2 separate regions of the Homo sapiens genome follow, and region 1 is linked to region 2. Evidence: fine-mapped expression QTL. A gene starts in region 2. The other region holds a variant in brackets. All regions are shown on one strand. Distances are between the middles of the regions.

What was found. PIP is the estimated chance that this variant, and not a neighbour inherited with it, causes the effect.
Region 1: its variant is the best candidate, but not a certain one, in a credible set for the expression of ERCC6L in tibial nerve (GTEx, PIP 0.71).

What each region holds. Positions count from the first base shown.
Region 1 is chrX:72,188,547-72,193,921 of GRCh38, reverse strand. The region is part of intron 2 of PIN4 (peptidylprolyl cis/trans isomerase, NIMA-interacting 4); the gene reads right to left. Among named protein-coding and RNA genes, the nearest start is that of PIN4, 9.5 kb to the right of the region's middle. The variant T/C (reference allele first, on the strand shown) is at 2,577.
Region 2 is chrX:72,235,926-72,241,300 of GRCh38, reverse strand. ERCC6L (ERCC excision repair 6 like, spindle assembly checkpoint helicase) reads left to right here and starts at 2,274. Exons shown (of 2, transcript NM_017669.4): 1 at 2,274-2,457. The coding sequence starts at 2,390. It also overlaps a transcript of PIN4 not described here. RefSeq lists an enhancer at 2,343-2,492.

The DNA of each region.
Region 1 (5,375 bases), 47 kb after region 2:
TCTTTCTTCATATCCTTATTCTATAAGCTTTTTTCTTTTTTTTTTTTTTGAGATGAAGTCTCATTCTGTCATCCAAGTCGGAGTGCAGTAGCACAATCTCAGCTCACTGCAACCTCCGCCTCCCAGGTTCAAGCGATTCTTGTGTCTCTCAGCCTCCTGAGTAGCTGGGATTACAGGCGCGTGTCACCACGCCAAGCTAATTTTTGTATTTTTTGTAGAGACAGGGTTTCACAGTGTTAGCCAGGCTGGTCTTGAACTCCTGACCTCAAGTGATCTGCCTACCTCAACCTCCCAAAAATGTTGGGATTATAGGTGTGAGCCACCACGCCCAGCCACTATAAGCTTTTTTCTATTTAAAATTTTTTTTTTTAATTTTTAAACTTTTTTATTAAAGACTAAGACACAAATACACACACTAGCTTAGGCCCACACAGGGTCAGGATCATCAATATCACTGTTTTCTACCTCCATGTCCTGTCCCATGGAAAGGTCTTCAGGGACAATAACATGCATGGGACTGTCATCTCCTATGATAATGCCTTCTTCTGGAATACCTCCTGAAGGACCTGCCTGAGGCTGTTTTACAGTTAATTTTTTTTTTTTAAGAGACAGCTTCTAGATTGCCTCCTTGTTTCTGCTTCCATACTCACAAAGTGATTGTCTGATACAATTCCTGGGAAAATGTACACTGCATTCGTGGTCACAGATAGGGGATACCGTCCACCATTTTATAAATGAATAAACGAGTATTCTAGTTTAGACAGTGCGACAAAGAGTTTTTCATTCCTGTGGGGTCTGCAAGTGTGACCAACGAACTGGCAACAGTGCAGCTGTGTCTTGGAGAGCCAAGCTACAGAAAGAGTTTGGGAGTGATGACTATGGAGGTGGCAGCTGAAGTGTGGAATTCATGAGGTTACCAGGAAGGAGATGAAAATGAGAAGAGGAGGAAAGAAAGCTAAAGTAACCTTGGAGACTATCAATGTTCAAGCAACAAGTAAAGAACTCAAAAAGTGTAATAAAAAGGGGCGAGGCGCAGTGGCTCACACCTATAACCCCAGCACTTTGGGAGGCCAAGGTGGGAGGATCCCTTGAGGATGGGAGTTTGAGACCAGTCTGGGCAACATAGTAAGACCCCCATCTCTACAAAAACTTTAAAAAAAATTAGCCGGGCATGGTGGTGCACATCTGTAGTCTTAGCTACTCAGGAGGCTGAGGCAGGAGGATCACTTGAGCCCAGGAATTGAAGGCTGCAGTGAGCTATGATCATGCCACTGCATGTCATGCACCCCGGCCTGTGTGACAGAGCAAGAACCTGTCTCTTAAAAAGAAAAAAGAAAAAAGCATAATAAAAAGGAAAGGCCATATAGGTAGGAGAGAAGCGTGTGCTAACAAACCAAGGCAGGAGAGAGTTTCAAGGAGGAAATGGTCAACAAGGGTTAAGGGTTGCAGAGACATCAGGTAAGAAGTATAATACATTGTGCAATGATGGAACAATGATCTCAGAAAAAGGAGTTTCAGAAGAGTTTAAGTGCAGAAGCCAGAATACAGCAGGCTGACTGAGGAAACAATGTCAAGTGGGAGGGTAATTCAAACAAACTAACTTTGTTTGAAAAGGAGAAAGGGCTCTGGCTAGAGGCAAAAAGTGGAAGACATGTAAATACGAAATTTACACTGGGCGAGGTGGCTCAGGCCTGTAATCCCAGCACTTTGGGAGGCAGAGGTGGGCGGATCACCTGAGGTGAGGAATTGGAGACCAGCCTGGCCAACATGGAGAAATCCCATCTCTACTAAAACTACAAACAATTAGCCGGGAGTGGTGGTGGATGCCTGTAATCCCAGCTACTCGGGAGGCTGAAGCAGGAGAATCGCTTGAAACTGGGAGATGGAGGTTGCAGTGAGCCAAGATCGCGCCACTGCACTCCAGCCTGGGCAACAAGAGTGAGACTCCATCTCAAAAACAAAAACAAAAACAAAAAAACCCACGAATTTTAAAGGTCCCTGGGCATATTTTCGGAATGAAGGGAAAGACCTAGGAAAAAAAAAACCGGTTGAAGACAGAACAAAAAAGAGGGTAGAGATAAATGAAGGAGCAAGGTTTGGTATTCAGAACACGGTTTGAAAAATTAGCCTTAAAGGAAAAAAGGTGAGGAGGTAACTTTGTTGCTAGGGGGCTGAAAGCCAATGAGTTCCTGACAATGGGTCTGGTTTCCACTTTCTTGTTAAAATAATAAAAACATTTAAAAGTTGATGAGTACTTATCTCATTAAATCCTCACACTAACGCTGTGAGACTAGATGAGTGTTTCTTAACCCTGGCAGCATATTAGAATCACCTCCAGAAATTCTAGAAAAGTTTTTCGTTTTTGTTTTTTGAGATGGAGTCTCACTCTGTCGCCCAGGCTGGAGTGCAGTGGCGCAATCTCAGCTCACTGCAACCTCCGCCTCTCGGGTCCAAGTGATTCTCCTGCCTCAGCCTCCCGAGTAGCTGAGATTCCAGGCGCATGCCACCATGCCCAACTAATTTTTGTATTTTCAGTAGAGACAAGGTGTCACCATGTTGGCCAGGCTGGTCTCGAA[T/C]TCCTGACCTCAAGTGATACACCCACCTCGGGCTCCCAAAGTGCTAGGATTACAAGCATGAGCCACAGAGCCCAGCCCTTCTAAAAAAGTTATCAAAGTCCAGGCCCCCCTCCAAGAGATTCTGATGCAGTTGGTCTGGGATGAGACCCTAGGCACTCGTATTTTTTTAGGCGAATCTGATGTACGTCTAGGGTTGAGAACCATGGAATGAAGTTCTCTGTTGACTGATGGGAGTGGGGTGGTGGATGGCTACAGGTGGGCGGTAAAGGATTGCTGAGCAGCACTGAGGGCCTAGGTAAAGTCAGAGACCAAGTATTAGTAGTCCCAATCCCCAAGGCTGTGTGACTTTCCAGTAGGGCCCAGCAGTTCTGGGGAGCTTTTTTTTTTTTTTTTGAGATGGAGTCTCGCTCTGTTGCCCAGGCTGGAGTGCAGTGGTGTGATCACGGCTCACTGCTACCTCTGTCTCCCAGGTTCAAGTGATTCTCCTGCCTCAGCCTCCCGAGTAGCTGGGATTATAGGCACCCGCCACCACACCCGACTAATTTTTGTATTTTTAGCAGAGACGGGGTTTTACCATGTTGGCCAGGCTGATCTTGGACTCTTGACCTCAGGTGATCCGCAAGCCTTGGCCTCCCAAAGTGCCAGGAGTACAGGCATGAGCCACCGGCGCCCGGCTGAATTTTTCTTTCTTAAGTAACTGTTTCAAATTTGAGCCAAGCTACTGAAATAAGTTCATCTATAAGCAAATATAATACTCATATTGGAATTATTAGTAAATACTTTATTTACATACTTATTAAAAATCAAGTATTAATATTTAAGTTGCCCCCAGCTAGACGTTTTCAAGGAAATCTTTTCTTTTCTTTTCTTTTCCTTCCTTTCTTTTTTATTGATGCATAGTAGATGTACAGTTTCAAGGTAATGCAATAATCTAATACATTCATATAATTGGTAAAGATCAAATCAGTATACTTGGAATATCCATCACCTTAAATATTTGTCTTTTCTTTATACTAGAACCACTCGAATTCTTCTCTTCTAACTATAGATCTAATTTTAAGTGCATAGAAAGTAGACCATTGGATTGATCCTGAGTAGCAGGGAGGTGGATGCAGGGAGGTGGCCAAAAGAAAAACTGGACCTCCTCAATCCAATGATCAAGCCCTTAGGCCTAATTTTGAGTGTGCAGGGGATAGGAAAACAAACATGAAGCCTAGGAGAAAGTGGGGAGATTAGGGTGGGCTTGAGGGCTTGGGGGTCTGTGAGGAGAAGAACAGAGGAACAGGATTGGCGGAGGCAGGAAGGGAAGGGGAAGGAGGGAAGCTGTGGTCAGTGGATGGGTCTCAGAATCTGCAGAGCTTATAGCGACAAAAGGGCAGGGTGTGGGCACAGGGGTGGGGTCTGAAGCAGAATGACAGAATGTGAAAGGAGCTGAACCCTAAAAGGCCAGAGGGTCCCAGGGTCCCTCACCGACTGGTGCCTTCAAAAAACACTTGAAACAACCCAGCTGTCCTTCAACAGGTGAATGGTTCGACATACTACAGCACTTCCACATCATGGGATACAGGTTGAATATCATTTATCCAAAATGCTTGGGACCAGAGTGTTTCGGATTTGGGAATATTTGCATTAAACTTACCAGTTGAGCATCCCTAATCTGAAAATTCAAAATCTGAAATGCTATAATGAGCATTTACTTTGAGTGTCATGTCAGCGCTCAAAAAGTTTCAGATCTTACAGCATTTTGTATTTTGTATTTTTGGATTAGGGATACTCAACTGGTACTATTTAGCAATACAGAGGAATAAACTATTGATAAACAAAACCACCTGAATGAAATCTCCAGCGAATTATACTGGGTGAATAAAACCAATCCCAAAAGGTTACATACTGTATTATTCCATTCATATAACATTCTTGACATTATAAAGTTACACAAATGGAGAACAGATAAGTTGCTGCCATGGGTTAAGAGGGCAGAGGTGGGGCAGGAGGGAAGCGGGTATAGTTATAAAAGGCCAAGAGGAGGGATCCTTGTAGTGGTAGGATTGTCTGTATCTTGACTACATCAATGTCAATATCCTGTTTGTGCTATTGTACTATAGTTTTGTTAGGTGTTACCATTGGGAGAAACAAAGGAATACGTATTATTTCTTTTCCTTTTTCTTTTTTTCTTTTTTAGAGACAAGGTCTCATTCTGTTGCCCAGGTTGGAGTGCAGTGGCGTGATCCTGACTCACTGCCGCCTCAAACTCCTGGGCTCAAACAATCCTCCTACCTCAGCCTCCCAAGTAGCTGGGACTACAGGCACACACGACCATGCCCAGCTAGATGTATTATTTCTTAAAACTGCATGTGAATCTATAATTATCTCAAAATAAAAGGCTTTATAAAAACAAATTTAACCCTAATCTACTTTCCTAGTGAATAACGTGCCACTCCTTTCCATATATCTCATGAGTGGCCACATTGAACTTATTTTTTTTCCAGAGAGGGTAAGGTGCCTCTTTAAAGCCACATGCACCAGGTGTGGTGGCTCATGCCCCTATAATCTTAACACTGTTGGAGGCTGAGGCGGGAGGATCGCTTGAGGCCAGGAGTTCAAGACCAGCCTGGGCAACATAGCGAGACTCCATCTCTACAAAGATAAAAACAACAAAACAAAGTTTTTAAAAAATTAGCTAAAGCCGCCAGGCACGGTGGCTCATGCCTGTAATCCCAGCACTTTGGGAGGCCGAGGCAGATGGATCACCTGAGGTCAGGAGTTCAAGACCAGCCTGGCCAACATGGTGAAACCTCA
Region 2 (5,375 bases):
TTATTCATGAAGTAGGATCCCTCATGACATTACTTGCTAAAAGGCCCCGCCTCTCAATGCCACCATGGTGGGGATTAAGTTTCAACACAAGAATTTTGAAGGACATTCAGACCATAGCACAGCCCAATCCAAGCTTGCCTCCAGGAAAAGATGTGATTCAAACACTTTAGCAGAGTAAACAAGTTCCTTCATAACCTGGCCTTCAACTGCCTCATCAACCTCATTTCCCGCCACTGCCCTCTTCTTTCCAGTGTGACACAGCGAAACGGCACAGATTTGTGTCCATATGGACCTAGTATTGAATTCTGGCTCTGCTGCTTCCTAGCTCAGGAAGCTTAGATGAAGTCAATTTATCTCTCTGAGCCTGTTTCCACATCTGAAAAATGTGGATAATAGTATACTAAAAGGCCTCTTAATAAAGGCCTTAAAGTCATACAAACCAGGAAAATAGCCCATGTTCTCCAAGATCCCCCACCTCCCCCCAACCCTTTTCTTTTTTTTGAGATGGAGTCTTGCTCTGTCGCCCAGGCTGGAGTGCAATGGCACGATCTCAGCTCACTGCAACGTCTGCCTCCTGGGTTCAAGCGATTCTTCCACCCCAGCCTCCCGAGAAGCTGGGATTACAGGCACCCGCCACCATGCCCAGCTAATTTTTGTAGAGACGGGGGTTTCACCATTTGGCCAGGCTGGTCTTGAACTCCTGACCTCAGGTGATCCGCCCGCCTCGGCCTCCCAAAGTGCTGGGATTACAGGTTCAGTGAGCCACTGAACCCGGCCTCCAACATTCCTTTTAACTCATAACGGTCTATAAATTTTATGAAAAGCTTAAAATTCTCTGGACATATGATGTATGACTGGGCCAATAGGTGAGTTTTCCAATACTGAATGCTAAATTAGTGTCTTGAGGAGTCATGTCTGTGTTCTTAACAGTATATGAACAAGGACAATTTTTGTTGGCCCACAACCTCCTATTTAGTGTCACCCAAGCAAGCCACTTAAACTCAATCACATTTCCTTAAGCTCTAGGCTCTGCCTTCTTTTTAGGCTCTGCATTTGAAAATGACTGTATCTTAGTTGGTGCTTCTGAAGAAATGATGACCACAGCACTACTTCTTTTTTTTTAAATTATTTTTGTCTTCCTTTTATTATACCAAGTATGTGAACCTAGTTACTTATTTCTTAAATAAGAACTTTAATTTTTTTTTTTTTTTTGAGATGGAGTCTTTCTCTGTCACCCAGGCTGGAGTGCAGTGGCATGATCTTGGCTCACTGCAGCCTCCACCTCCAGGGTTTGAGATTCTTGAAGACCCTTCTCTCTTTCTCTCTCTCTTTTTAAGAAAATAAATACAGCATAACGCCCTGTGGAGAAGAAAAAAATTTTTTTTAAAGAGACGGGAGTCTCACCATGTTGCCCAGGCTGGTCTCGAACTCCTAAGTGCAAGTGATCCTCCCACCTTAGCCTCCCAAAAGGCTAGGATAACAGGCGTGAGGCACTGCACCCAGCCTTTTTTTTTTTTTTTTTTTTTTTTGAGATGGAGTCTCGCTTTGCCACCCAGGCTGGAGTGCAGTGGTGCAATCCCGGCTCACTGCAACCTCCACCTCCTGGGTCCAAGCGATTCTCGTGCCTCAGCCACCCGAGTAGCTGGGACTGCGGGCGCCCGCCACCACGCCCGGCTAATTTTTTGTATTTTTAGTAGAGACGGGGTGTCACCATTTTAGCCAGGTTGGTCTCGAACTCCTGACCTCACGTGATCCGCCCGCCCCGGTCTCCCAAAGTGCTGGGATTACAGGCGTGAACCACCGCGTCTGGTCGCTTCTTCAATGTTAGTTTAAATCACAGGGACTATGCCTCCCAGGGTGTTTGAATTCAAAGCACGGTCAGTGCCAGGTACTGGCGATCAAGGAAGGGAAGATATCTGTGGATGCGGGGCAGGGTATGGTTGGGGGACGCAGGCGTTGGAGATCTCCAGGGGTCGCCGCAATGACTGGGATCATATCGGGCAGTCTCCTCCACTCACAATGATGGCACACGCACGCGCGAACGAATTGGCTGCAGCATGGTTTGAATTGGATTGAAACGCGAGGGATCACAGACTGAGGCAGCACACTCCGTGTCTCGAAGGCAGAGATCACCTTCTGCTTCCCGGCGCGCGTAGGCGCAGGCGCCCACCGTCATGGGCGGGGCTCAGGCGGAGGCGTCGCAGCGCGTGGTCGCGGATTGGCCGGCCGCGAGGCCGTCGGTTGGCTGTGTCCCTCTCCACGGCGCACAGAGCATGCGCGGGGCGGGAGTGAGCGAAATTCAAGCTCCAAACTCTAAGCTCCAAGCTCCAAGCTCCAAGCTCCAAGCTCCAAACTCCCGCCGGGGTAACTGGAACCCAATCCGAGGGTCATGGAGGCATCCCGAAGGTTTCCGGAAGCCGAGGCCTTGAGCCCAGAGCAGGCTGCTCATTACCTAAGGTATGTCTGGACCGCTGGGCGGGTCTAGCTAACCGACCTGGCCCAGGGTGGAGGTGGGGTGGCCCCCGGATCCTCCTGGGGACCCGAACTGTTGAGGCGGAGCCTTTTGAGACGCGCGCTCGCGCTCTTCTCGCAGTAGGGTGTGGGAGTCAGCTCTGGATGTTTGACCAGATTTCTAAAACCTGAGGAGACCCCGATGCCTCTTCTTTTGGGCAAATGACCCTCCAGTATGGTCTCCTTAAAAGCCAGAGGAGCCTTAATTAATCAAGCCCTTCTTGATTCTTTTCAGCTTATCAAGCCCTAAGTCTAGGGGATACAGAGATGAGTAAAACAAGGTCCCCGCCCCCAAATTGTTTGTAATCTAGTAGTGGAAACGGATCTGTAAAGCAATAATTACTAGGTTTGATAAGTGCTGTAAGAGGTATAATGTACGTGCAGGGCACAGTGTTGGCATAAAAGAGGGAATGGCCAACTACAAGGGTGGTCAGCTAAGGGATGGCGTGGCAAGAGGAGACATTTGAGCTAGGCGTTGAAAAATGAGTAAACATTCACCAGTTGGCTAAGGGTGGGGGGCGTGGTAATGTTGGGATGAGAATTTAAATTTTTTCTTAAATTGTGGTAAAGTACACATAACATAAATTTTATCTTTTTGTGCAGAAACTGGGTTTTATGAAAAATAAAGTTTATCATCCTAACCATTTTTAAATGTACAGTTCAGTAGTGTTGACTACATTCATATTGTTGTGCAGCCGTCCGTCATCTCCAGAACTTTTCTCATGTGGCAAAACTGAAACTACTCCCATTAAACAAACTCCCCATTTCCCCCTCCCTTCAGCCCCTAGCAACCATTATTCTGTCTCTGTGAATTTTACTGCTTTAATTTTTTTTGAGACAGGGTCTTGCTGTGTCGCCCAGACTGGAATTCAGTGGCCTGATCATAGTTCACTGCAGCCTCGAACTCCTGGGCTCAAGCAGTCCTCCTGCCCCAGCCTCCCTAGTAGCTGGGACTTAAGGTGGGTGCCACCATGTCCAGCCAATTTATTATTTTACTATTGTTGTTTTATATATATTTTTAGAGACAGGGTCTGGCTCTGTCACCCAGGCTGGAGTGCAGTGGCGCGATCTCTAACTCAGCTCACTGCAACTTCCATCCCCCGGGGCTCATGCGATCCTCCCACCTGTTTCCGGAGTAGCTGGGACCACAGGCGCACACCACCACACCCAGCTATTTTTTTTTTTTCTTTTTTTGATACAGTCTCGCTCTGTCACCCAGGCTGGAGTGCAGTGGCGCGGTCTGGGCTCACAGCAAGCTCCGCCTTCCGGGTTCACGCCATTCTCCTGCCTCAGCCTCCCGAGTAGCTGGGACTACAGGCGCCCGCTAACACACCCGGCTAATTTTTTGTATTTTTGGTAGAGACGGGGTTTCACCGTGTTAGCCGGGATGGTCTCAATCTCCTGACCTCGTGATCCGCCCGCCTCGGCCTCCCAAAGTATTTTTTTTGTGTTTTTAGTAGAGACAGGGTCTCGCCATGTTGCCCAGGCTGGTCTCAAACTCCTGAGTTCAAGCAATCCTCCTGCCTCGGCCTCCCAAAGTGTTGAGATTACAGACGTGGGCCACCATGCCAGGCCTTTCATTTAGATTTTTCCAATTGTTTGCCATTATACTTTTGTTGTAATAGGCAGCCTTTGTGTGAATTTTTGTGCACTTCGTAACTGAGTGTACACTTTGGAATTCCGATTGCTGGGTCTTAGGGAATGTGTATTTAAAATTGCCATTCAAGAAAACCATGCCAGATTTTAATAAAGTCAATAGTGTGAGTAAGCATTTATTTATATTCTCTCAGGCTGGTGTGTGATGAGCTATATGAGTCAATTCAAAAGTTAAGATACATAGTTTTACTTTTGAAGCTAAGACTTGTAGTATTTTCTTCTACAGATACACTTACATGAGTGAGCAAAGATGTGTGTGCGTGTGTATACAGTAAGTCCTCACTTAACATTGTCCATAGGTTCTTGGAAACTGACTTTAAGTGAAATGACGTAGCAAAACCAATTTTTTTCTCATCAGTGTTGCAGCAAAATGATATTGAATGAACCAGTGTCATTCAAGGGCCTGCTGTGTGTCATTTTGCTTAAAGTTGCAGTTGCCAAGAACCTACTGACCACGTTAACTGAGGACTTACTGTACATATAAACATATACCAGAGGTGTGTGCCATGAAGCCCGGCTAATTTTTAAAAGATTTTTGTAGGCTGGGTGCAGTGGCTCATGCCTGTAATCCCAGCACTTTGGGAGGGCGAGGCAGGTGCATCACGAGGTCAGGAGTTCAAGACCAGTCTGGACAACATGGTGAAGCCCCGTCTCTACTAAAAATACAAAAATTAGTCAGATATGGTGGCGGGCACCTGTAATCCCAGCTACTTGGGAGGCTGAGGCAGAATTGCTTCAACCCAGGAGGCGGAGGTTGCAGCGAGCTGAGATGGCGCCACTGCACTCCAGCCTGGGCAACAGAGCAAGACTCCGTCTCAGAAAAAAAAGAAAAAAAAGATTTTTGTAGAGATGAAGTCTCACTGTGTTGCCCAGGCTGGTCTTGAACTCCTAGACTCAAGTGATCCTCCCAACTCAGGCTGCCAAAGCACTGGGATTACAGGTGTGAGCCACCATGCCCAGCAGAATCAGACTTTTTATTACACTTACATTATTACACCACCGTTCAAGCATTCTACTCTCCATCTTCTACCTTACTCCCTCTAGAATACCAATTCCAACAAATGTTTGATATTGTTGGGACCTATAGTTCATTGATTCCATCTTTTCACTGTTGCACACCCCTCAGGTTCTCACTTCTCTCCTTACATAGTTTGAAGTTCAGAGTCAATAATTGTGGAGGCTTCCTTGTATACAACTTTAACTTATTT